2 separate regions of the Homo sapiens genome follow, and region 2 is linked to region 1. Evidence: fine-mapped expression QTL. A gene starts in region 1. The other region holds a variant in brackets. All regions are shown on one strand. Distances are between the middles of the regions. Region 1 holds the start of APAF1 (apoptotic peptidase activating factor 1). Region 2 has its middle 18 kb from the start of SNORA53.

What was found. PIP is the estimated chance that this variant, and not a neighbour inherited with it, causes the effect.
Region 2: its variant is the best candidate, but not a certain one, in a credible set for the expression of APAF1 in whole blood (INTERVAL, PIP 0.65).

The regions. Positions count from the first base shown.
Region 1 is chr12:98,637,977-98,654,182 of GRCh38, forward strand. APAF1 (apoptotic peptidase activating factor 1) reads left to right here and starts at 7,314. Exons shown (of 27, transcript NM_181861.2): 1 at 7,314-7,859; 2 at 10,343-10,521; 3 at 10,650-10,839; 4 at 11,511-11,708. The coding sequence starts at 10,384. It overlaps IKBIP (IKBKB interacting protein), which reads right to left and starts at 6,812. Exons shown (of 3, transcript NM_153687.4): 1 at 6,547-6,812. The coding sequence starts at 6,725. RefSeq lists enhancers at 5,530-6,157, 6,158-6,784, 6,785-7,412, 11,387-12,586 and silencers at 6,989-7,188, 7,509-7,718.
Region 2 is chr12:98,613,801-98,621,800 of GRCh38, forward strand. It overlaps a transcript of IKBIP not described here. Among named protein-coding and RNA genes, the nearest start is that of SNORA53, 18 kb to the left of the region's middle. The variant G/A (reference allele first, on the strand shown) is at 3,694.

The DNA.
Region 1 (16,206 bases):
ATTCTAGTGAGAGCAGTTCCCAGTCTTCCCATTTAGATGAGAGTGAAAAACAAGCAATTAGGGTCTGCTAAAGGGTATACCTTCAAGTAGAAGGAAGAAAAGAACTATAAGTAATTCTGGACTTGGGGATTTCTATTTCTAGGATCTTGGCCTTTTGTTGGGGATTAATATCGAATGGAGGCAACGAATCATACTGATTAGGTGGGTGACTGGACTGCCTTAGCTCTGCCATTTACTAAGCTGTATAACCACTTTGGGCAAGTTAAATAACTTTGATGTTTCCTCATCTGTGAAGTGGGGATAATACCTTATTTTAATCTTATTTTTTAAAGACAAGATCTCACTCTATTTCCCAGGCTGGAGTGCAGTGGTGTGATCATGGCTCACTGTAGCCTCCCAGGCCCAATCCATCCTACCCCCTCAGCCTCCTGAGTAGCTGGGAACACAGGCGTGTGCCATAATGCCTGGCTAATTTTTTATAGAGATGGGGGTCTTCCTATGTTGCCCAGTCTTGTCTTGAACTCCTGGGCTCAAGTGATCCTCCTGCCTTGGCCTCCCAAACTGTTGGGATTATAGGTGTGAGCCAGAGCACCCAGCCAATACTTCATAGGGTTGTAGTTTGTTTTTCGACAAGGTCTCATTCTGTTACCCAGGCTGGAGTACAGTAGCCTGATCATAGCTTACTGCAGCCTTGAACTCCTGGGCTCAAGTGATTCTCCCACCTCAGCCTCTCAAGTAGCTAGGACCACAGGTACATTACCACCACTGGCTAATTAAAAAAAAAAATTCTGTAGAGAGGAGATCTGGCTATTTTGTTTGTTTGTTCGTTTTTTGAGGCAGCTGAAGAGGAAGAGGTCTACAGTGACACAATCATAGTTCACTGCAGGTCAAACTCCCTGGGCTCAAGCGATCCTCTCGCCTTGGCCTCCTAAAATGCTGGGATTATAAGTGTGAGCCACCATGCCTGGCCGAGTTATTGTAGACATTAGTTATTGCTATTTATAAAAGCTCCTGGAACAATAGAGCCATAGCACATCAGCTATTTCCTTTAAGTACTGTGGCCCCTTTTTTTTCTCTTTTTGGAGATGGAGTCTCACTCTGTTGTCCAGGCTGAAGTGCAGTGGTGTGATCTCGGCTCACTGCAACTTCCGCCTCCTGGGTTCAAGTGATTCTTCTGCCTCAGCCTCCCAGCTAGCTGGGATTACAGGTGCCCATCAACAAGACCAGCTATCTTTCTTTTGGACTACTTTGTGCAGCTACTCTTCCATCCTTCCTACATGCCTATGATTGCATAAGGGAAGCAGGGTTCCCGACCACTTGCACTTGATAGAAGCCCCAGGCCTGTCCCCCTTTGAACACTAAGTATAAACTGGGTTGTGTTTATGGCAAATGAAGGATGGAATAGATGGATTAGACCACTTATAAATCACTAAATAAAAATAACTCTCGTTTTTGGGCCTCTTCTCACTATCATATCATATGGCCTTGTGGAAGAGTGAGATACAGGAGAAAGGGACCCAGGCTACTTTTAGCGTAGGCCTTACAAAAAGAATCTTCCTGACTCCTTCATGAGCCATTGCAGTCTATAGAGACCTCATACAGATCTATCTAGGGTCCTGTGATAATGAATGGTTTACATTTTCCTACAGTGCATGGTGGTAATTAATGGTGTGTGTTGCCTCTGAATAGCTCCTTTAGGAACGTTAAATGGTGGCAGACAGCTGACTGAGGACTTACAAATTCAGGATTTCCTCTGGCTCTATTTCAGCTTAATAATGAAAAAGAGGCAAATAACCAAAGGAAGCTGTTACGGACCTTCTGCAAGGAAAGAAGTTCCAGGGCCACTATTAGGGTCAGTACCCATTTAGCCCTATGTTTCATACCATCTATAGCCTCAGTTTTAGCACAATACCTAGTTTTCAAGAAAACCTTGACCATATTCCATTTTTAAGAAGCAGGACATTTAAATTATACCCTTGTCTTTTAGATAAAACTCTACTAACACAAAGAAAAAAGCTGGAAATGGAGTTAGCCAAGGTTTTACAGTATGATTTATAGAGAAAATTATATTGGATAATTAAAACAAAAACCAGAGTTATACAACTTGCTTAAAGAGCTTTTGACTTTTTGTACATAATTATAACAGATACTATAAAAAACTTTTATAAAGGCAATTTAGGCCAGGCACGGTGGCTCACGCCTGTAATCCTAGCACTTTGGGAGGCTGAGGTGGACAGATCACCTGAGGTTGGGAGTTTGACACCAGCTTGACCAATGGAGAAACCCTGTCTCTACTAAAAATACAAAATTAGCTGGGCGTGGTGGCGCACACCTGTAATCCCAGCTACTCGGGAGGCTGAGGCAGGAGAATTGCTTGAACCTGGGAGGTGGAGGTGGAGGTTGCGGTGAGCTGAGATTGCGCCACTGCACTCCAGCCTGGGCAACAAGAGCAAAACTCCATCTCTCAAAACAAAACAAAACAAAACAAAACAAAACAAAACAAAAAAGCAATTAAAAAATCTATTGAAGTTTCCATAAGAAACAAAATTTTCACAATGGAAATTCCAGCTGATTAAATTTCTATGTAATTAAATAAGCATGAGTGACAGGTTTTGTGTCTTGTTTAGTAATTTAACAACTTTTTAACTTTCTGAAAGTAGAATCACCTCAATTCTTACCTGAAAAATTTCTATAAGAGTTTAGAAAAGAGCTATGCAAACTGACACTCAAGCCATATGGGTTTGGGCAACTTATCTCCAGTGTTTATTGTCAAGATGACATAGGATATATCAGGCCTTTTTTTTTTTGCAGGGTCTCACTTTGTCACCCAGGCTGAGTGCTGTGGTGCAATCAAAGCTCACTGAAACCTCAAATTCCGGGGCTCAAGCAATCCTCCAACCTCAACCCCCCAAGTAGCTGGGACTACAGGCATGCGCCACCATGCCTGGCTAATTTTTTGTATTTTTTGTAGAGACAGGGTTTTACCATGTTGCCCAGGCTGGTCTTGAACTCCTGAGCTCAAGATCCGCCCAACTCGGCCTCCCAAAGTGCTGGGATTACAGGTGGGAGCCACCACACCTGGCCTATCAGGCCTTTATTTAGCAGAGAGAAGATATTAAAGCAACACACTTTTAAGTTTCTTATGTATTATTTCTCTTTTCTTTCCACATAGGAAATGGTCTGAAGACAATGATATAGTGTGATTCCTTGAAATCCTTCTTGGGCAGTGGAAGGGTTCAGATTTTTTCCCTCCAACTTAATCAGATGAAGAGTGAGAGTAAGCAGTATTTAAGAGTACACAGACAGGCACACATATGCACTTGTATTTTAACCACCAGGGCCGTGTCAGTACGGAAAGCATTTAATAAAGATTTGATAGACCGACTTTTAGATGCTGAATTACGTGTTTTAGTGGTAAAGATCTCAATGGCTTTGTCAAAATTCTAGTGAGCTTTTAAGTATTTTAAGATGCCAAATACTTGCTTTTTATCTGGAAAATGTTTACAAATGTCTTATGGGGATATATTTTTATTTCAAAATTTACTATGAATAAATATTTTGCAATAAACAGCAACCAAAGTACATTTGCTTCAATTTTTGCAGCAAAAGATTTCACAAGAGCAACTAAGAGGCAACTATTTAAATAATAATTATAGAATCTGCCCATAAAAAACACATATAATACATACATTTTAGAGAGACAGGGTCTTGCTCTGTCTCTCAGGCTGGAGCACAGTGGTATAATCATGGGTTACTGCAGCTTTGACTTCCCAGACTCAAGCTATCTTCTCACCTCAGCCTCCCAAGTACCTGGGACTACAGCGAATGCCACCACACTTGGCTAATATTTAAAAATTTTTCGTAGACACGGTCTCACTATGTTTCCCAGGCTGGTTTCAAACTCCTGACCTCAAGCAATTCTCTCGCCTCAGTTTCCCAAAGTGTTGGGATTATAGGCATGAACCACTGGGTCTGGCCCCCAAAATTATTTTTGATATAGCATTGTGTTATCATTTTGCAAACATAGTTCAAATTAAATCTTCCTAATGAATGTAATACATTCATTACAATGTAATACAGGAATCACTAACAGCAAATTCCTGATGTGAGGGAAATTTTATTCCCATAAAGTTTAGTTTTCTATTAAAGCTTATCCCAGGATAGTAACTAACTTTCCCAAAACACAAAAGGTTACTTATTTATTTAGGCGAAGTCTCGCTCTGTTATCCAGGCTGGAGTGCAGTAGCAGATCTTGGCTCACTGCAACCTCCACCTCCCAGGTTCAAGTGATTCTCCTGCCTCAACCTCTGAGTAGCTGGGATTACACCAGGCCCAGCTAATTTTTGTGTTTTTGGTAGAGATAGGGTTTCACCATGTTGGACAGGCTGGTCTCAAATTCCTGACCTCAAGTGATTCGCCTGCCTCGGCCTCCCAAAGTGCTAGGATTACAGGCGCAAGCCACTGCACCTGGCCCAAAAAGGTTTTTTTTTCAATTTACTTAAAGGAGGTCAAGCATTTTAAGGCATAAGAGCCGTTTATTTAAAACAGTAAATTCAGTACATTTATTCCTTTCAGATCAAAATTAACATATTCCGTATTAGTAAAATAAATAATGCTATCTGCTTTTTTTTTTTTTTTTTTTGAGAAGGAGTTTTGCTCCATCCTGCAGGCTGGAGTGCAGTGGCACGATTTCGGCTCACTGCAACCTCCGCCTCTTGGGTTCAAGTGATTTTCCTGCCTCAGCCTCCTGAGTAGCTGGGATTACAGGAGCATGCCACCATGCCTGGCTTTTTTGTATTTTTAGTAGACACAGGGTTTTGCTATGTTGGCCAGGCTGGTCTCAAACTCCTGACCTCAGGTGATCCACCCACCTTGGCCTCCCAAAGTGCTGGGAGTACAGGCATGAGCCACTGCCGGCAGGCTGACAATTCTATTGTTTTTGAAGAGGGCGTTTAATCACTTTATTGTGACAAAATTTTGTTTGTTTGTTTTTTGAGATGGAGTCTCGCTCTGTTGCCCAGGCTGGAGTGCAATGGCACGATCCCAGCTCACTGCAACCTCCACCTCCCCATTTCGAGTGATTCTCCTGCCTCAGCCTCCTGAATAGCTGGGATTGCAGGTTTGTGCCACCAAGCCTGGCTAATTTTTGTATTTTTTGTAGAGACAGGGTTTCACCATGTTGGCCAGCCTGGTCTTGAACTCCTGACCTCATGATCTGCCCACCTCGGCCTCCCAAAGTGCTGGGATTACAGGTGTGAGCCACCGCGCCCAGCCGTAACAAATCTTTTAACTCTGAAAAATACACTATTTGGGATGAGTCACCAGTAAAGTATAATTCCATATGTAGTAGCATAAAAAATGTCTAGATGTCCAGGGTCTCTTCTAAAATTCTATCACTCTGGAAGATTAACAACAGTCTTACTAAATAACTTTACACATGAATGAAAAATGGAGAAAAATTCTATTAAGATGCCAATCTTATTAAAATGAAATGGGCTATTCCCTCCTCCCGCCAGAAAAAAAAAGGCTGGGAAAATAAAATTCACAAGTTGGTTTTTTTCTTTTTTCTTTTTTTACGAGTTGGTTTTAAGGTTATTTCTAATATTCATTTTTCCTAATGACACCAATATATCGCCATTTACCTGATTTTAAAACTGCAACTGGTTAGTTTTAAGTGAACACAAGTGCTATGTTTTTGTAGCTTTACCATATTCAATCTGTAACTTACTTAATAAAAGACCTTAAATTCATAATGCATGCACGGTGATCAAAATATGAGCACTCCTCCAAGCTCTGCTACTATAACGTTTGCTCCTTTGGGAGCATAATGATATGGTTTTCTTTTTTTTTTTTTTTTGAGACGGAGTCTCGCTCGGTCGCCCAGGCTGGAGTGCAGTGATGCGATCTTGGCTCATAGCAACCTCCGCCTCCCGGGTTCAAGCGATTCTCCTGCCTCAGCCTCCGGAGGAACTGGGACTACAGGCGCCCGCCACCACGCCCGGCTGATTATTCGTATTTTTGGTAGAGATGGGGTTTCACCATGTTGGCCAGGCTAGTCTCGAACTCCTGACCTCAAGTGATCCACCTGCCTCGGTCTCCAAACATAATGATCTGTTTTAAGGTTGCAAGTATTTCCATTAGGTATTTATGGGGTGAGTAGGGTGGGGCAGATGTGTCCCGGAATGGGGCACAGCGGACAGGAAGTAACGGTTTATAACAACGTGAACGCTTCTGACGTGTAGCGGGAGCTTCAGAAAGCGTGGCCGAATCTGCAGCTCTTAACAAATGGCTCGTTCCCAAACCTTAGCCTCAACTCCTTCTGAGCGATAGGGGCATGCTACCAGCACGGGGGGAAATGAGATACAAGAAACGCCCGAAAGGGAAAAACAAGGCTGGGCTGTTTCCTTCCTTTGGGGTCAAGACAGAGGCACAGAAGGCCCAGGTCTGGGAGGTTGGATCACCTCCGGCTGGATGTTGAGCCGGGTGGGAGCCCAAACAGCAGGGGGCCCACAGGAGGCCGGCCCAGGCAGCCTCGCGTCCACTTACCAGGCCAGGCCCAGGCACGTCCCCAGCGACAGCAGGCTCAGGCACGTTCGGGGGTCTGCCCAGCCCCCGCCTCCGCTGCTCCGGGCCACGGGGGTCTTCCCGCCCTCGCTCCGCTTCCCGGGCTCCGCAGCAGGGGCTCCCTTGGGCCCCGACTTCTTCCGGCTCTTCACCTCAGACATGTCTGGAGACCCTAGGACGACAAGCCCAGGGCAGCTTCTTCACCAGGGGGAGCAGGACGTGGCCGCCTTGGCGTTCGTGGGAACCCTGGGCGGTGACCGCGCCCCCTCACAGACTTGGCACCGCCCAGAGCCCAGCCCCTTCCCTCTCCCCGGCATCCTCGTTGCTTCACTGAGTCTTTCAGCTGCCAGCTCCATAGTTCCCCTAGGAGAGGTGGGCGGCGACCTCAACCCACAGCGCCTTCCACTGCGATATTGCTCCAAATCCGAGGAAATTCAAACTCCCGGGCGCGCGCAGGCCGACGGGACCCGAGGAGGAGGGGCAGGACGAAGGGGTCGCGCGCGCCACGTCGGGCGCGCCGCCGCTGCCCGAGTCCGGCATTGGTGGGAACGCGGCGCGTCCCTGAGGCTTAGCCACGCCCCGTCCGCGGGGTAGGCGGGCACTTCTACGCGCGCGGGCATGAGCCGTGGCAGGAGTGCGCGGCGGCAGCGGTGGCCGCCCCTTGGGGCTTGGGGTGTGTTTATTTGCATAAGCGGGCGCGCGCCGTCCGGGCTGGGTGGATCCGGCGGGATTTGACTGCTCCGCTGTCCAGAGGCGGAGAAGAAGAGGTAGCGAGTGGACGTGACTGCTCTATCCCGGGCAAAAGGGATAGAACCAGAGGTGGGGAGTCTGGGCAGTCGGCGACCCGCGAAGACTTGAGGTGCCGCAGCGGCATCCGGAGTAGCGCCGGGCTCCCTCCGGGGTGCAGCCGCCGTCGGGGGAAGGGCGCCACAGGCCGGGAAGACCTCCTCCCTTTGTGTCCAGTAGTGGGGTCCACCGGAGGGCGGCCCGTGGGCCGGGCCTCACCGCGGCGCTCCGGGACTGTGGGGTCAGGCTGCGTTGGGTGGACGCCCACCTCGCCAACCTTCGGAGGTCCCTGGGGGTCTTCGTGCGCCCCGGGGCTGCAGAGATCCAGGGGAGGCGCCTGTGAGGCCCGGACCTGCCCCGGGGCGAAGGGTATGTGGCGAGACAGAGCCCTGCACCCCTAATTCCCGGTGGAAAACTCCTGTTGCCGTTTCCCTCCACCGGCCTGGAGTCTCCCAGTCTTGTCCCGGCAGTGCCGCCCTCCCCACTAAGACCTAGGCGCAAAGGCTTGGGTAAGTTGACCTCCTCGCTTTTCTCCCCGAGCCAGGTTCTTTGGAGGCTTGGTAGCTGATTTCAGGGACTGAGAATTTGAGGACATGGAATATTTGATAACCATCCTGCTCCTGTACCAGGAAGAGAAATTCTGTAATGAGGAAGTAGTAAACTTGGGGTTTTCGTGGATAAACGTGCGCTGTTTTCTGTTTTACGTCCATGAAGAGTTTTGGCTTTCCATTTTGTTGTGGGTTACAAAAGGTTTTGAGACTTAGTTCAGATAAGTTGTGCAGTTTTAAAACGTATTTAAGATTTGCATATTTTAGTTTAACAGGACTAGGTGAAATTGGAAATTAGTTTCAGAAAACCAGAGTGTCTTATTTGCTTAGCTATTGGACATCACCTAAAAAATTCATTCATTCTTGTTTTTTCACATCGAATTTCATTACTATAAATTAAGGAACATTTTATGTTTAAGAGGACAAAAACGTTATTAACATTTTAAAAAATGAGAGTTTTGATTCGAATCAATAACTTTTTATCAGTTTTGTGCCCCTGCTGGGCATTTTGTAAGCCTTGACAAGCATAGGCAAATGCCCTACGTCCGTCCCTGTTTTTCCAAGTGCTACATTTGGTGACTTCAAAAACAGTCATTGAAGCTTGATAATTATTGCCCCCTTCTGTGAGCTCCAAGTTACTTGTGCTCTGTTTTTGCACTTCGGGCATTCACATTCCCACTCTCTCTCTCTTTTTCTTCTTTGAGTAGACTGTGAATTATTTCAGGCAAATGACTCAATCTTTTCTGTAGTCTTGGTGTCTGACATATAGGGAGGGGCACAAATGTGTATTGAATGAATGAATTGATAAACCCGTTTAGACTCTTTCACTCTATACATTGTGTAAAGTTCTGTTAATGTTTTGAAAACTTGCAGATATTGTGAACTGGGTTTTATGCCCATGGAAAAATTTGCATTATATTTGAAATAAAGTTGCTAGAAACGTCAAGTATTTTACTATAAAGGCTGTTATTCTTTCCTCATGTCCTCCTGGTCTGAGAAATCACATCAGAAAGTGTTTCCTGTTGCTTTGTGGGAAATGTGTTTAGCAAGGAGGACCTAGAGCTGACATCCTCCTTGAACGAGAACTAATACTCAATAGTAACAATGCTCTATTCACTCTTATGTTTGATAAGGAAAACAAGAAGTCTCTTAATATTAGGACTTCAATGTAATCACTATTTTATACAATCTTAATTAAAAAAGGAAGTATTTTATTGTAAGAAATGATAATGTGTGCTAAAAAAAATTGACAGTAGAGGCCGGGCATGGTGGGGCTCACAAGTGTAATCCCAGCACTTTCGGAGGCTGTGGCGGGTGGATCACCTGAGGTCAGGAATTCAAGACCAGCCTGGTCAACATGGTGAAACCCCGTCTGTACTAAAAAAAAAAAAAAAATAAGACAAGGTGGGGGAGAAATCCCAAATTTTGCTACTCAGAAGTAACTCAAACATTTCGATGAATAAACTTCTAAACGTCTATATATATTCATATGATACCAACACTTGTTTTTTTTTTTGAGACAGAGTCTCAGTCTGTCGCCCAGGCTGGAGTACAGTAGAGTGGTCTCGGCTCACTGCAACCTCTGCCGCCCTGGTTCAAGCAGTTCTCTTGCTTCAGCCTCCCGAGCAGCTGGGATTACAGGCACCTGCCACTGCATCTGGCTAATTTTGTATTTTTAGTAGAGACAGGGTTTCACCATCTTGGCCAGGCTGGTCTTGAATTCCTGACCTCGTGATCCACCCGCCTCGGCCTCCCAAAGTGCTGGGATTACAGGCATGAGCCACTGCGCCCGGCCCCCACGTTATGTGTTGTATGTGGGATCATGTTTCTGTTTTTTTTTTTTTTTTTTTTCAGCAACAGTATTATGAACATCTTTCCATGTCAATACATGGAGATATGTGTCATAATTTTGAATGGCTGCATAATATTCCATTTTATATACATACCCTAATTTTTAAAATCTATATTCAGAATGATGGACATTTAGGTTGCGTTCATCACTGAAACATCCTCCATTAATTCTTTTTTCTTTTTATTTTTTACTCTAGCCTCCCAATGTGCTGGGATTATAGGCTTGAGCTACCACACCTGATTGGAAACTCATTAATTCTCCTTGTGGATATTTTTACATATGTATTTGAATGTCTCCTTGAAGTAAATCCTTAGAAATGGGATTTCTGGGTTAGAGAGAAAGCTTATTTTAAACAATTCCATATCTTACTGCTTTCCAGAAAAATTGCATTCATTTTCTAGTTTCCCCAATTAGTGCATAAGAATGGCCATTTTCTCATACCTTTCCAAGCACTGGGTTTTGTCCATTTAAAAATTTTTGCCAAGGAAAAAAAATCAGTTTTGTTCTTTTTACGTTTCTTGTTTATTAGTGAGATTATGTATCTTTTCATATTTTTATTGGCCTGACAAATATTTTGGTGTTTTGGCTGTAGCTCATGGTTGACAGCTCAGAGAGAGAAAGATCTGAGGGAAGATGGATGCAAAAGCTCGAAATTGTTTGCTTCAACATAGAGAAGCTCTGGAAAAGGACATCAAGACATCCTACATCATGGATCACATGATTAGTGATGGATTTTTAACAATATCAGAAGAGGAAAAAGTAAGAAATGAGGTAAAGCTCTCTGAAGCAGTCCACACTTCCTTAAAAATTTTTAGAATTTCAGAACTTGTACTGGTCTCCACTACTTTATGTTGCATACATATTCATTGTTGTATACTAAACTACTTAATTTTTTTTAGCCCACTCAACAGCAAAGAGCAGCTATGCTGATTAAAATGATACTTAAAAAAGATAATGATTCCTACGTATCATTCTACAATGCTCTACTACATGAAGGATATAAAGATCTTGCTGCCCTTCTCCATGATGGCATTCCTGTTGTCTCTTCTTCCAGTGGTAAAGATTCAGTTAGTGGAATAACTTCGTATGGTTTGTATCCATTATACCTTCTATCACTTTGCTATCAAAATTGCTTTGGGTTTGTCTTATTGTAGATGTAATCTTTTGAAGAGAGTGTGACCAGTTCACTGAAAACTGCATGTTAAAAAAATTGTAGTGATGTTTTCAATTTAAATATTTTTTATTTGCATCCACATTAACTCTCAACTTTTCTTCTTGCCCAGTGAACTGTACTGCTGAGATAATAATATGTCTACCCTAATTTTTAGAGACAATAAGACAATTTATAGGCCCTTGTTTATTTTCCAGTTCTATGTGTTTATAGAGTTTATAGGAAAAAATAAGAATCTTTAGAAATATATGTTCTTGAAAGGTATTCCATAAATGTTCTTCCTTTTACACTTGCCTTCCCAGTCTTCAATATGAGAGGGAATGAAAAGTCAGGAAATAATTGGGTGAGTAAAGCAGATATAGATAGAAACTTCCATTTTCTTTAGTCATCTTGAAGGATATATGTTTGTCTTTGCTCTCTGTTGTCTGAGAAATCAGAAAATTGAAGTTAATATGCTAGCCACATTTTCTTAACTTCTCTTGGAAATTTTCAGGCTAAGCCTCAGCTTTGCTCTTTGTTTTTTATGGTATTACTTCAGTAATTATTCCAAAGTTCTATTCATTCATGCTTGTTTTGTTTTGGATTTTAGTAAGGACAGTCCTGTGTGAAGGTGGAGTACCACAGAGGCCAGTTGTTTTTGTCACAAGGAAGAAGCTGGTGAATGCAATTCAGCAGAAGCTCTCCAAATTGAAAGGTGAACCAGGATGGGTCACCATACATGGAATGGCAGGCTGTGGGAAGTCTGTATTAGCTGCAGAAGCTGTTAGAGATCATTCCCTTTTAGAAGGTAAGTGTCTTAGTCCATTTCATAGTCTAGTAAGGTAGATAGACATGTAAAAATATTATGATATATCAATACGTGATAAATTGAATGGTAGAAACAAGTATAAGGTACAGAGTTAGAACAAAGGAAGGATATGTTAACTCTCTGAAGGGAGGGGATGGATAGGACAAGCTTCCTGAATGAGATGACATCTTAGCAGGAGTTTGGAGAAAGAATAAAAGTTAGCTAGGCAGTGAAGGTAGGGATGGGAGACTAGGGAAGGTGGGAAAGGTAGTGGGTGGTTACTGGGGTGGGGAAGGGCATACTGGGTAGAAGAGGGTTTAAGAAATGTTGGCAGGTATACCACTGACCTTAGCGATCCTGGTAGGTTCTCAGGGTATTCATCAGGAATAGTTGTATAGCTCCATCAGTTCTAGGCTGCCCCCATTCATCAGTGTGTTCTCATTCATCAGTGTGTTCTCTCTGTATGACACTTCTAGGGGAATTCAAAGACAGTTCCCAACTTCTAGTAGTTAATAATTTTTTTTTTAGTAGGCCAGGCACGGTGGCTCATGCTTGTAATCCCAGCTGAGGCGTGGATCACCTGAGGTCAGGAGTTCAAGACCAGCCTGGGCAACATGGTGAAATCCCGTCTCTACCAAAAATACAAAAAAAATCAGCTGGGTGTGGTGGTGAGCACCTGTAATCCCAGCTACTCGGGAGGCTGAGGCAGGAGAATCACTTGAACCTAGGAGGCGGAGGTTGCAGTGAGCTGAGATCGCACCACTGCACTCCAGCCTGGTCAACAAGAGCAAGACTCCATCTCAAAAAAAAGTTTTTTGTTTTTTTTTTTTTGATATGTATGTATAACATGATCTACGGTTAAGACAGTTTAGACAGAATGATTGGAATAAGTAGTAAGCCTCTAAGAGACTTAGAAATATGGAGGCTAGGGTATATCTATGTGTACACATGGCCTCAGTTTAATTTCATAGCCTTTGTAAGTGGTATAGACTATACTCTTGTCAGAAGTATGCCTGATTCCTAACCCTTGGTTTTTCCCCTCTATCATTACAGAGAAGTTTCCTGAGACTTAGCTCCTTTCAAGTCTCAGAGCCAAGGATTTTTTTAAGCCCCTACTGCAAAGTTGATCACTAAGGATATTTCAGGATAAATTTAGCTTAAGTTCCTTTAGTGTGAAGGAATGAGTTTTCCTTTCAATATTATGAACTTTCTTTGTGTATTTATAATATTCCAATTTATAGGTTTAAAAGAACACTCCCTCTCCCCATTTAAATTGCTCTACATTATTGTGATGAATTTTCAATTCTAGGGATTAAAATTGACTAACAATCTATGGAATTAAATATTCAGGAGTCATATTGTATAAATTGTTATCTTGGAACAGGTTTTAACTACTTTGTTTTGAGAAAATCCTAGAGATACTGGCAACTGTACATGTGAGCTTAATTCATATTCCTCGTACTTTTGTGGGATCTCAAGTTCAGAGGACTGAGTTATTCATATTCCTTAGTTCACGGCTTATTATAGTAGATCTGTACTAGGCTGAGCTTTTCACTGTATTTATTTATTTCCATTTCAAAATTTCCTATTCTTATTTCCTTTCCCCTCTCCATGGACAATCCTAATGTATTTAATGTATGTTCTTTGTAAATGTCTGTGTAAAGTGTGTACTCTTGTAAAATATGTATGTTGTTGGTATGCAGGTATTTTAAATTTGCATAGATGTTATGGTATTATTCTGTTTTTTATCTCCCATGACACAATGTTTTTAAGATTTATCCTTGTTGCTATGTATACATGTTATTTGTTACACCTGATTGCCACCAACCCATTTTACTGCTCATTACCCTAAGTAAATGGATATGTAGATTGTATCCAACTCTCTGCTGCTGCAGCAAAGCTGGGTTGAACTTCTATGTGAGTAAGAATTTCTTGGGTATTTGTAGCTAGGAGCAAAATTAGTAATTATTTATTTATTTTTGTTTTTTTTTAAAGAGACAGAGTGTCACCCTGTTGCCCAGGCTGAGTGCAGTGGCCATATCATAGCTCACTGCAGCCTCAAACTTTTAGGCTCAAGTGATCCTCCCACCTTAGCCTCCTGAGGAGCTGGGTGCACACGCCACCATGCCTGGCTAATTATTTATTTATGAAACAGGGTCTTGCTTTGTCACCCAGGCTGGAGTGCAGTGGCACAATCTTGGCTCCCTGCAACCTCTGCCTTCTGGGCTCAAGTGATCTTCCCACCTCAGCCTCCGGAGTAGCTGGGACCACAGGTGCATGCTGACACACCCAGCTAATTTTTGTATTTTTTGTAGAGTTGGGGTTTTGTCATGTTACCGAGGTTGGTCTCGAACTCCTGAGCTCAAGCAATTCACCCACCTTGGCCTCCCAAAGTGCTGGAATTGCAGGTGTAAGCCACCATGCTTGGTGTGTTTTTAAACATTTTTTTGTAGAGACAGGTTTTTGCTATCTTGTCCAGGCTGGTCTCAAACTCCTGGGCTCAAGTGATGCTCCCGCCTTGGCCTCCCAAAGTGCTGGGGTTACAGATGAAAGTCACCATGTCCAGCCAAAATTACTAAATGATAGGATATACAAATACCAAATTTGATTCCCCTCCAGTCTGTACATTTCCCCCAGATGAGTATGGGGACTCCGATAATTCTACTTGTGCAGTGACGGTTGGTATGATCCAGCTTTGTAATTTTTGCCAGGCAAACTTCTATAAAGTTGTGTCTTTTACTTTGCATTTCTCTGGTAACTCAAGTTTGAACATTTCTTCATAAGCTTGTTGTTAGCCTTTTGGGTTTCTTTTTTTATGGATTTTGTTTATATTATTTGTCTATTTTCCATTGGGGTTTCCAATTTTTTTTTCTTTTTGCTTTTTAGGAGTTTCTTATATATTCTAGACATTAAACTTTGTTGGTTTTAGACTTTTATTTTATTTTATTTTATTTTTTTTGAGACGGAGTTTCGCTCTTGTTGCCCAGGCTGGAGTGCCATGGCGCGATCTTGGCTCACCACAATCTCTGCTTCCCAGGTTCAAGCGATTGTCCTGCCTCAGCCTTCTGAGTAGCTGGGATTACAGGCACCCACCACCACGCCTGGCTAATTTTGTATTTTTAGTAGAGACGGGGTTTCTCCATGTTGGTCAGGCTGGTCTCGAACTCCCGACCTCAGGTGATCCCCCTGCCTCGCCTCCCAAAGTGCTGGTATTACAGGCGTGAGCCACTGTGCTCAGCTGGTTTTAGACTTTTAAATACCTTATTTTAATTTGCCATCTGATTAATTTTTTTCCTGGGTGTTCTCAGTAGACGAGAACTCTGATGTAGTCAAACTAATCAGTTTTTTTTTTTGTCTTCTAACTTGTGTTTCCTGAGTTTTGTTCAAGTAGTCCTATTACAGTCTTATTATTCATATTTAGTTCTTTATTCTCTGGAGTCTGCCTTTGTATGTCCACTAATTCAAGAATAGGTGCTTTCCCAAAGATAAATTTTAATCTCTGGAGTTCACTTCCATTCTCAAATACAGGAACATTGGATTTTTGACATTTAATTGTATTGCAAAACCTTTTCTTTTAAAAGTACAGATAATATAAGAGATCTAAATTTGATTAAAATTGTGGTTCCTATGGAAATGTTTTCTTTGGGTGGTGATTGGCATAAATTAAAGAATATTAAGTTGTTAACTTTTAGCTGGGTGTGGTGGCTCGTGCCTGTAATCCCAGCACTCTGGGAGGCCGAGGTGGACAGATCATTTGAGGTCAGGAGTTTGAGACCAGCCTGGCCAACATGGTGAAACCCCGTCTCTACTAAAAATACAAAAATTTGCTGGGCGTGGTGGCGCATGCCTGTAATCCCAGCTACCCAGGTGGCTGAGGCATAAGAATCGCTTGAACATGGGAGGCAGAGGTTGCAGCGAGCCAAGATTGCACCACTGCTCTCCATCCTGGGTGACAGAGTGAGATGCCGTCTCAAAAAAAAAAAAAAAAAAAAAAAAAAAAAAAAAAAATATATATATATATATATATATATATATATATAGTTTTTAACTATTTATGTCTATACAGTTTTAAGTAACCCAGTTGTCTTTTGAAATTTCAATGCTTTAATTTTTTCTTATTTGTAGGGAAATAGTAAAGAATTGACGTATCTTTAAATACAGTAGTGACATTTTACATTACTGTATTCGTATGTTGGTTTTTAATCATGGATGCTTTCTTCATAGGCTGTGTTCCTATTTGTTTCTGTCCTTTCCAAGATTTCTTTGTGTTATTAGATTATTAATTGCTACCAGGATAAGCCTCCTGTGAAAGTAGTGTGGAGTTTTCCCTGAATAAAGGCAACTTTTCTCTGAATTAGTTTCTCTGAGTGAATTGTAAATACAGCCTCCTCATGCAAAGCTAAATTGCTCCCTCTTGTGCCCATAGTCAAGATGTTTAGATTCTTTCTGAAATGTGGAATTAATGGTTCAGTTTTTAACTAAATGTTATATTGTGATG
Region 2 (8,000 bases), 28 kb before region 1:
ATCATTTGCAAAAGTCACTGTCTTCAGAACTTTGGCTCTGTCACCTTCTAAGCTTAGAAATCTATCTGTATGTTTGTCGAAGTCACTCTTTAGTTCGGTTAGCGTCTTCTTAACAGAGTTAATTCTTTGTGAATTTTCAGATGCTGTCTTTCGGAGCGTTGCTGTTCGATCAATACTGCTTGAAAGAAGATCACCTATATTTTTTACTGTATTTTTTTCTACTTTCTCTATTTTATTTTCTAGTTCTTGCACAGAATCTGTCAATGATATTACATCAGTTACTAAACCTGAAATCCGTCGTATATCTGTTTTTACACTTGTAATCTTGAGACCAACATCTTTTGCCATGGAAGTTGTACTTTGGTCTACTTTTGTAATGTCTTGAGAAAGCGTCGTCAGACTGTTGTTCAGTATATCCTGTTTTTCAGTTATCCTATTGGACCAAGTTTTTACCTCATTAATTTCTTCCTGTAGACGCTTTAGATGAGCAATTATTTGAAAAGACTTCAATTGTTCCATGATAGCTTCAGATTTCTGCCACTATAAGAAAATATAATATCACAATGATTAAATGTATTAGAAGCTTACCATTTAAAATTCATCTTAAATTTTATATTTCTTTTTAATTTTAATTTTTTTTTTGAGACAGAGGCTTGTTCTGTTACCCAGGATGGAGTGCAGTGGCACGATCTTGGCTCACTGAAACCTCCACCTCCTGGGTTCCAGCGATTTTCCTGACTCAGCCTCCCAAGTAGCTGGGATTACAGGCACCCGCCCCCACCTCAGCTAACTTTTTTTGTATTTTTAGTAGAGACGGGTCTTCACCATGTTGGACAGGCTGGTCTCGATCTCCTGACCTCTGGTTATCTGCCCACCTCGGCCTCCTAAATCCATGCCTGGGATTACAGGCGTGAGCCACCACGCCCTGCCTTATGTTATTTTTTAACTACACTTTACTGTTCTTCTGGAAAGCATATGGTAAAAGACGACTTCAGAAGTAAGAGAATTTAGAACAATGTAAGTGAATTACTAATGAATAAGAAGGAAACATTAAGAAAATTTCATGAAATGTCCCTGGAAATTACATTTTTTACATTATAATATTTTCACAATTGGTCTTCTGTACAGTAATAAAATGAGCTACATGAGACAGTGATGTGGTTTTTCAGTTGCTGGAGAAGGGAAAAGGAAGTTTCCTCCAGTTGAGCTTTGCTAGGTGAGACAAGGCAACATAAGTTCTTTTTTATTTCAGCTTTATTAAGGTATAATTGACAAATTAAAATTGTATATATTTATTGTGTACAATGTAATATTTTGATATACATATCTACGCACATATTGTGAATGATTAAATCAAGCTAATGAACATATCTATCACCTCATGTATTTTTTTTTGTAGTAAGAATATTTAAGATCTACTCTCCTAGAAATTCTCTCTTTTTTTTGGAGATGGAAGTCTCACTCACTCTGTACCCAGGCTGGAATGCAATAGCCCCATCTCTGCTGACTGCAACCTCTACCTCCTGGGTTCAAGTGATTCTCCTGCCTCAGTCTCCAGAGTAGATGGTACCACAGTTGTGTGCCACCACGCCTGGCTGATTGTTGTTTAGTAGTGACAGGGTTTCACCATGTTGACTAGGCTGGTCTGAAACTCCTAATCTCAAGTGATTCGCCCGCCTCGACCTCCCAAAGTGCTAAGATTATAAGGCATGAGCCATCGCGCCCGGCCTCTTAGCAATTTTCAAGTATATATTATTATTATTTACAGTCATCATACTATACAATAGATCTCCAGAACTTATTCATCCTGTTTAACTGAAACTTTGTATTCTTTAATCAACATCTCTCAATTGTCCTACCCTGTCCCCTCCAATCCCTCGTAACCATTCTACTCTGTACTTCTATGAGTCTGACTTTTCTAGATTCCACATATAATTGAGATCATGCAGTATTTGTCTTTCTGTGCCTGGTTCATTCCACTTAGCATAATATCGTTTAGGTTCATCCATGTAGTCACAAATAACAGGATTTCCTTCTTTTTAAAGGGAGAACCGCATTTTGTGTGTGTGCGTGTGTGTTATTTATCATTCATCTGTTGATTGACACTTAGGTTGATTCTACATATCTTGGCTATTGGGAGTAATGCTGCAATGAATATGGGAGTGCAGAAAACTCCTTGACATACTGATTCATTTCTTTTGGATATATATCCAGAAGTGGGATTGCTGGATCATATGATTATTCTTAGTTTTTTTTTTTTTGAGGAACCTCCACACTGTTTTCCATAATGGCTATACTTTCCCACTCACAGTGTACGATGGTTCCCTTTTCTCCACATTCTCACCAACACTTGTTATCTTTTGTCTTTTTGATAATAAATATTCTAACAGGTGTGAGTTGATATCTCATTGTGGTTTTAATTTTTCATTTCCCTGATAATTAGTGATGTTGAGCATTTTTTTCCATATACCTGTTGGCCATTACTATGTCTTCTTTTGAGAAATGTCTATTCATGTCCATAGCCCATTGTTTAATTGGGTTTTTTTTTGCTATTGAGTTGAGTTCCTTATATATTTTGGATATTAAGCCATTCTCAGATTTATGGTTCATGAGTATTTTCTCCCATTCTATAGGTTGTCTCTTCACTCTGTTGACTGTTTCCTTTTCTGTACAGAAGATTTTAGTTTGACACAATCATATTTATCTATTTTTGCTTTTGTTGCTTGTTCTTTTCAGGTTCTATTCAAAAAAATCTTTCCCAAGACTAACGTCAAGAAGCTTTTTCCTCATGTTTTCTTCCAGCGGTTTTCAATTTCTGGTGTTACATTTAAGTCTTTAATTCATTTTGAATTGGTTTTTGTATATGGTTTGATATAAGGGTCCAGTTTCATTCTTCTGCATAGGATATCCAGTTTTCTCAACAGCATTTATTAAAGAGATGTCCTTTCCCTTTTGTGTGTTCTTGGCAACTTGGATGAGAATCATTTGAACATACACTTGTAGAAGTATTTCTGGGCTCTCTGTTCCATTAGTCTATGTTTTTTTTTTAAATGCTAGTATCACGCTGTTTGGATTACTACAGCTTTGTAATATATTTTGAGATCGGGTAGTGTGATGTCTCCAGCTTTGTTCTTTTTGCTCAAGATTGCTTTGGCTATTCGGGGTCTAAGGCAACTGCAAATAAGTTATAGCAAATGCTAGAATGAAGGGACCAATGTCCAAGACTATATGTCTACGCTTTATTGGCCTGTAACTTTTATGAACAGTTTTCTGGCCTATCTAACTATCCATGAGACCTTGAATAATTCAAATTCTCAAGTTCCTAGTATGTTGTTAGGCATGCAAAATATGTGGAACATAAAGATGAGTATAACTCGAGTTGTGGCCTCAACTTAGTTTAGTAGAGAAGACAGATAAGTAAAAGAAAAGAATTTCCAAGGTTCTAAAATTCTGATTCCAAATGCAGCTGTTTTTCAACTTTTGTATGTTTCAATGTCATCCTTCTTCCCCACTATACATTATGAACTGAAAGCTCTTAAATTGTCACCTTGATTTAACTTGGACACATTAACTGATAAACATTTGGAGCCACCCAAGTGTCTGGCAACATCTTGAGTTGTTATTTTTGTTGTTGTTTGTGGTGATGGTCCTGTGTCTGTGCACACACATGTGCGTGCCTATATAGCAGTGTTG[G/A]GGAGTTGAGTATTTTATCGAACTTTAAATATTTGACATTTTATTGCATTGTGCCATCAGTTAATAAAATGAAGAAGGGAAAATTACATAGCGATAAGATGGGTAGATCTCATAAACCACACAAAGTTGGATAAAGTCGTACAATTAAAACAAAGATGGAAATCAGGTAAGACTATTTAGCTTCAATCAGAAGATTAGCCTATGGACTGTGTGCTCAATTATGAAGAAAAATAAATTAAGAAACAAATGTAAAATGGCTAGAAATACATTGCTAATGCGTATGCCCAAAGACAGATATACAGTAATTACTCTGGAAAAAGAATCCCATTTATAATGTGTAAGTCAATCATTTGACTTTTGCATATTTAACTTTCAGCTTGTTTTCTAGGAAAGTACTATGTTGTAAAGTAGGAAATTATAACTTTCTATTAATAACCAAAACTAGTTTGATTTGACAGCATATACTGTACTACAGTATGTCCTAGTATGATCAAGAACAGTCTCTGCTTTTAGGGAGTTTGTAGTTTAGTTTGGGACACAGAATGTCGATAAATGTGTTACTTAAAATTCAGAAAAGAAGAAATAAAAAAGCTTGAGTCCAGGAGTTTGACGCTGTAGTGTGCTATGATTGTGCCTATGAATACCAACTGTGCTCCAGCCTGGGCACATAGCAAGACCCCCATCTCTAAAACAAAAAAATTGAAATTAAAATTTATAAAAACAAATAGACTGTAAAACATTTTTACAAAATTAAATATGCAGTTTAATCTAAAGATATCTTTTTTTCTAAAATAATTGTGTATTTCTTCAATGTTTTCTTATCAATTATCTTTCTTAAAAGAAAAAATTGAGGCCAGGCGCGGTGGCTCACGCCTGTAATCCCAGCACTTTGGGAGGCCGAGGTGGGCGGATCACAAGGTCAAGAGATCGAGACCATCCTGGCTAATGCAGTGAAACCCTGTCTCTACTAAAAATACAAAAAATTAGCCGGGCGTAGTGGTGGGCGCCTGTAGTCCCAGCTACTCAGGAGGCTGAAGTAGGAGAATGGCGTGAACCCGGGAGGCGGAGCTTGCAGTGAGCCGAGATTGTGCCACTGCACTCCAGCCTGGGCGACAGAGCCAGACTCTGTCTCAAAAAAAAAAAAAAAAATTTGAGATGGGGGTCTCACTATGCTGCCCAGGCTGGTCTTGAACTCCTGGCTCAAGTGATCCTCCCAAAGTGCTGGGATTACAGGCGTGAGCCACCACACCTAGCTTGAATTATCTTTCTTAAATTGTATTTGGATTACTTGGCTAATGCCAACCTTTTGAGATTATTTTGGTTATCATACATTTAGTTTTACTTAACACAAATAAAAATGAATTATGCTCAGAATATTATTTTGAGGGCAGCTTTAAAAAGAAGCATCCATATAGTTGCAAAATAATTATAATGAAGTACAGAAATGGGACAGTAGGACAAAATAATTCTAAGTAGCAACCCCCCCACTTCGCCCCATCATAAATGTTTAATTTCAAAATACACTTGAGGATTTTTCTCCTCAATTGCTTTATGCTTAAATTAATTATTGGTGGATAAGGTGGCCCAAAATGTGTTTTTTGGTAGAGAAGTGAGTTTGCGAAATGTTCCTGTGGGTATGACATTAAGCGGTAGCCACAAATAGGAAGGAAACCAAGAAGTGATTGCAAAATCACATTTTATTTTTAAGGAGGAAGTTTTGCAACATAGTGTATTTGATGAAACAATCTCCCAAGGGAGAAAGGACTAGACGGCTACTTTAATCTATTTCATTACCAGGTTATCATTTATTAATGTATCTACTCTGGTAAAAGTAGCTTAATAGCAATTAAACAATTAAGATGTTGATGAATGAGCTTAGCTTATTCTTAGAAGGATCAGATTATTAGGAAGAAGCTGTTAGTAAACCTCTTTGTTTCACTTGGTTGTTTATAATAGCAATGTATCATGAACTTCTATTGATCTTTATGAAAATATAAGCTCAATACAGTGTGGTAATAGTCTACAGATTGTTGTATTAAGTTATTTTAAAAATTACTTCGGGTTTGGTTAACCTATTTGCCTAGGATGGATAGAAGAGTTAGAGTCTATCAGTAGCTGAAAACAGCACATCAGTGAAGGCTGGGGATGGTGGCTCACGCCCGTAATCCCAGCACTTTGTGAGGCGGGGTGGATGGGTCACTTGAGCTCAGGAGTTCAAGACCAGCCTGGGCAACATGGTGAAACTCCATCTCTACAAAAATTACAAAAATAGCCGGGCTGAGCTGGGAGGATGGCTTGATCCTGGGAGGCAGAGGTTGCAGTGAGCTGAGATCATGCCACTGCACTCCAGTCTGGGCGACAGAACCAGACCCTTTCTCAGAAAAAAAAAAAAAAAAAAAAAAGTACATCAGTGATTTGATTATTTATTTATTTATTTATTTATGAGATGGAGTCTCACTCTATTGCCCAGGCTGGAGTGCAGTGGTGCAATCTCTGCTCACTGCAACCTCTGCCGCCTGAGTTCAAGTGATTCTCCGGCCTCAGCCTCCCAAGTAGCTGGGATTACAGGCATGCACCACCACACCTGGCTAAGTTTTCTATTTTTTTTTTTTTTTTTTTTAGTAGAGACGGGGTTTCACCATGTTGCGAACTCCTGACCTCAAGTAATCCGCCCACCTCAGACTCCCAAAGTGCTGGGATTACAGGCATGAGCCACTGCCCCCGGCCAGAATATTTATTAAATTCCTATCATATATTCAAGGTATGAGGTTAGATGCTGTCCTGTAATGTTAAACATTGCCTGGATCTACAAGCACAGCAACATGGTTCAAGAATATGATTTCTAGGTCCAATCTGCTTTCTAAAAACTTGCTAAAGGATTTTTTTTTTTTGAGACGGAGTCTTGCTCTGTCGCCCAGGCTGGAGTGTAGTGGCGCCATCTCAGCTCACTGCAACCCCTGCCTCCTGGTTTCAAGAGATTCTCCTGCCTCAGCCTCCCAAGTAGCTGGGATTACAGACGCTCACCACCACGCTCACCTAATTTTGTATTTTTAGTAGAGACACAGGTTTCACCATGTTGGCCAGGATGGTCTCGATCTCCTGACCTCGTGATCCACCCACCTCAGCCTCCCAAAGCGCTGAAATTACAGGCGTGGGCCACTGCACCCAGCTAGGTTCTTTGAATTCTATTAAAGGACCTGGAAATTTTATTGATCTGTATAATTTAAAACCATTTAGATCAGGCGCAGTGGCTCACACCTGTTATCCCAGCACTTTGGGAGGCCAAGGACGGAGGATCCGTTGAGGTCAGGAGTTTGAGACCAGCCTGGGCAACATAGAGAGACCCTCACCTCTACTTTTTTTTATATTAAAAAAAGGGTAAATAAGTAAATAAAACCACTTAAAGCCAGAAGGCATCTTAGGGATTATTGATATAATTCTCTCCTTTTACTATTTAAAACTAAGCCCTAGTGGCCGTGCGTGGTGGCTCACACCTGTAATCCCAGCACTTTGGGAGGCCGAGGTGGGTGGATCACCTGAGGTCAGGAGTTCGAGACCAGCCTAGCCAACCTGGTGAAACCCCATCTCTACTAAAAATACAAAAAATGAGCCGGGTGTAGTGACAGGCACCTGTAATCCCAGGTACTTGGGAGGCTGAGGCAGGAGAATTGCTTAAACCCAGGAGACGGAGGTTGTAGTGAACCAAGATTGTGCCACTGCACTCCAGCCTGGGCGACACAGCAAGACTTTGTCTCAAAAAACAAAACAAAACAAAAAAAACCTAAGCCCTAAAATAAAGTGCCCAGAATATGCAGTGGCAAAACCTATTAATAGATTAGAGGAGTACAGCCTAGGACTCTTCAGCACTGCTTTTTCCTCTTCTCCAACATTTATTCATTTATTGATTCCTTCTCATGCTCAAGGGCCAAACAATTTTAGAGCACAGCTACAGCTTTTGAGGGACTGAGTCTGGTTTAATGGCAACATGGTAGAGAACACATTTGACTCAATTATTGCTTTTTGAGTTATCGAGATAGTTCTACTAACAGCAGATTTGTTGTGATTTTTCTCCCCTAGTTGAACAGTAGCAGGCTCCATGGTGTAGTGAGATGTCCTTGGCCTCTGGAATTGAACAGACCTAGGTCTACAGTGTGACTGCAAGATTCCCAATGTTCCTAAGTCTCCATTTCCTTATTTGTAAAATGGGTCTAATAGCTAGTAAAGGTGTAGTAAGGATTAGTGATAATGACTGGCACAAGGTAGGTAATCAATATATAGAGCTGTTATGATGACGATAATGAAGGCTG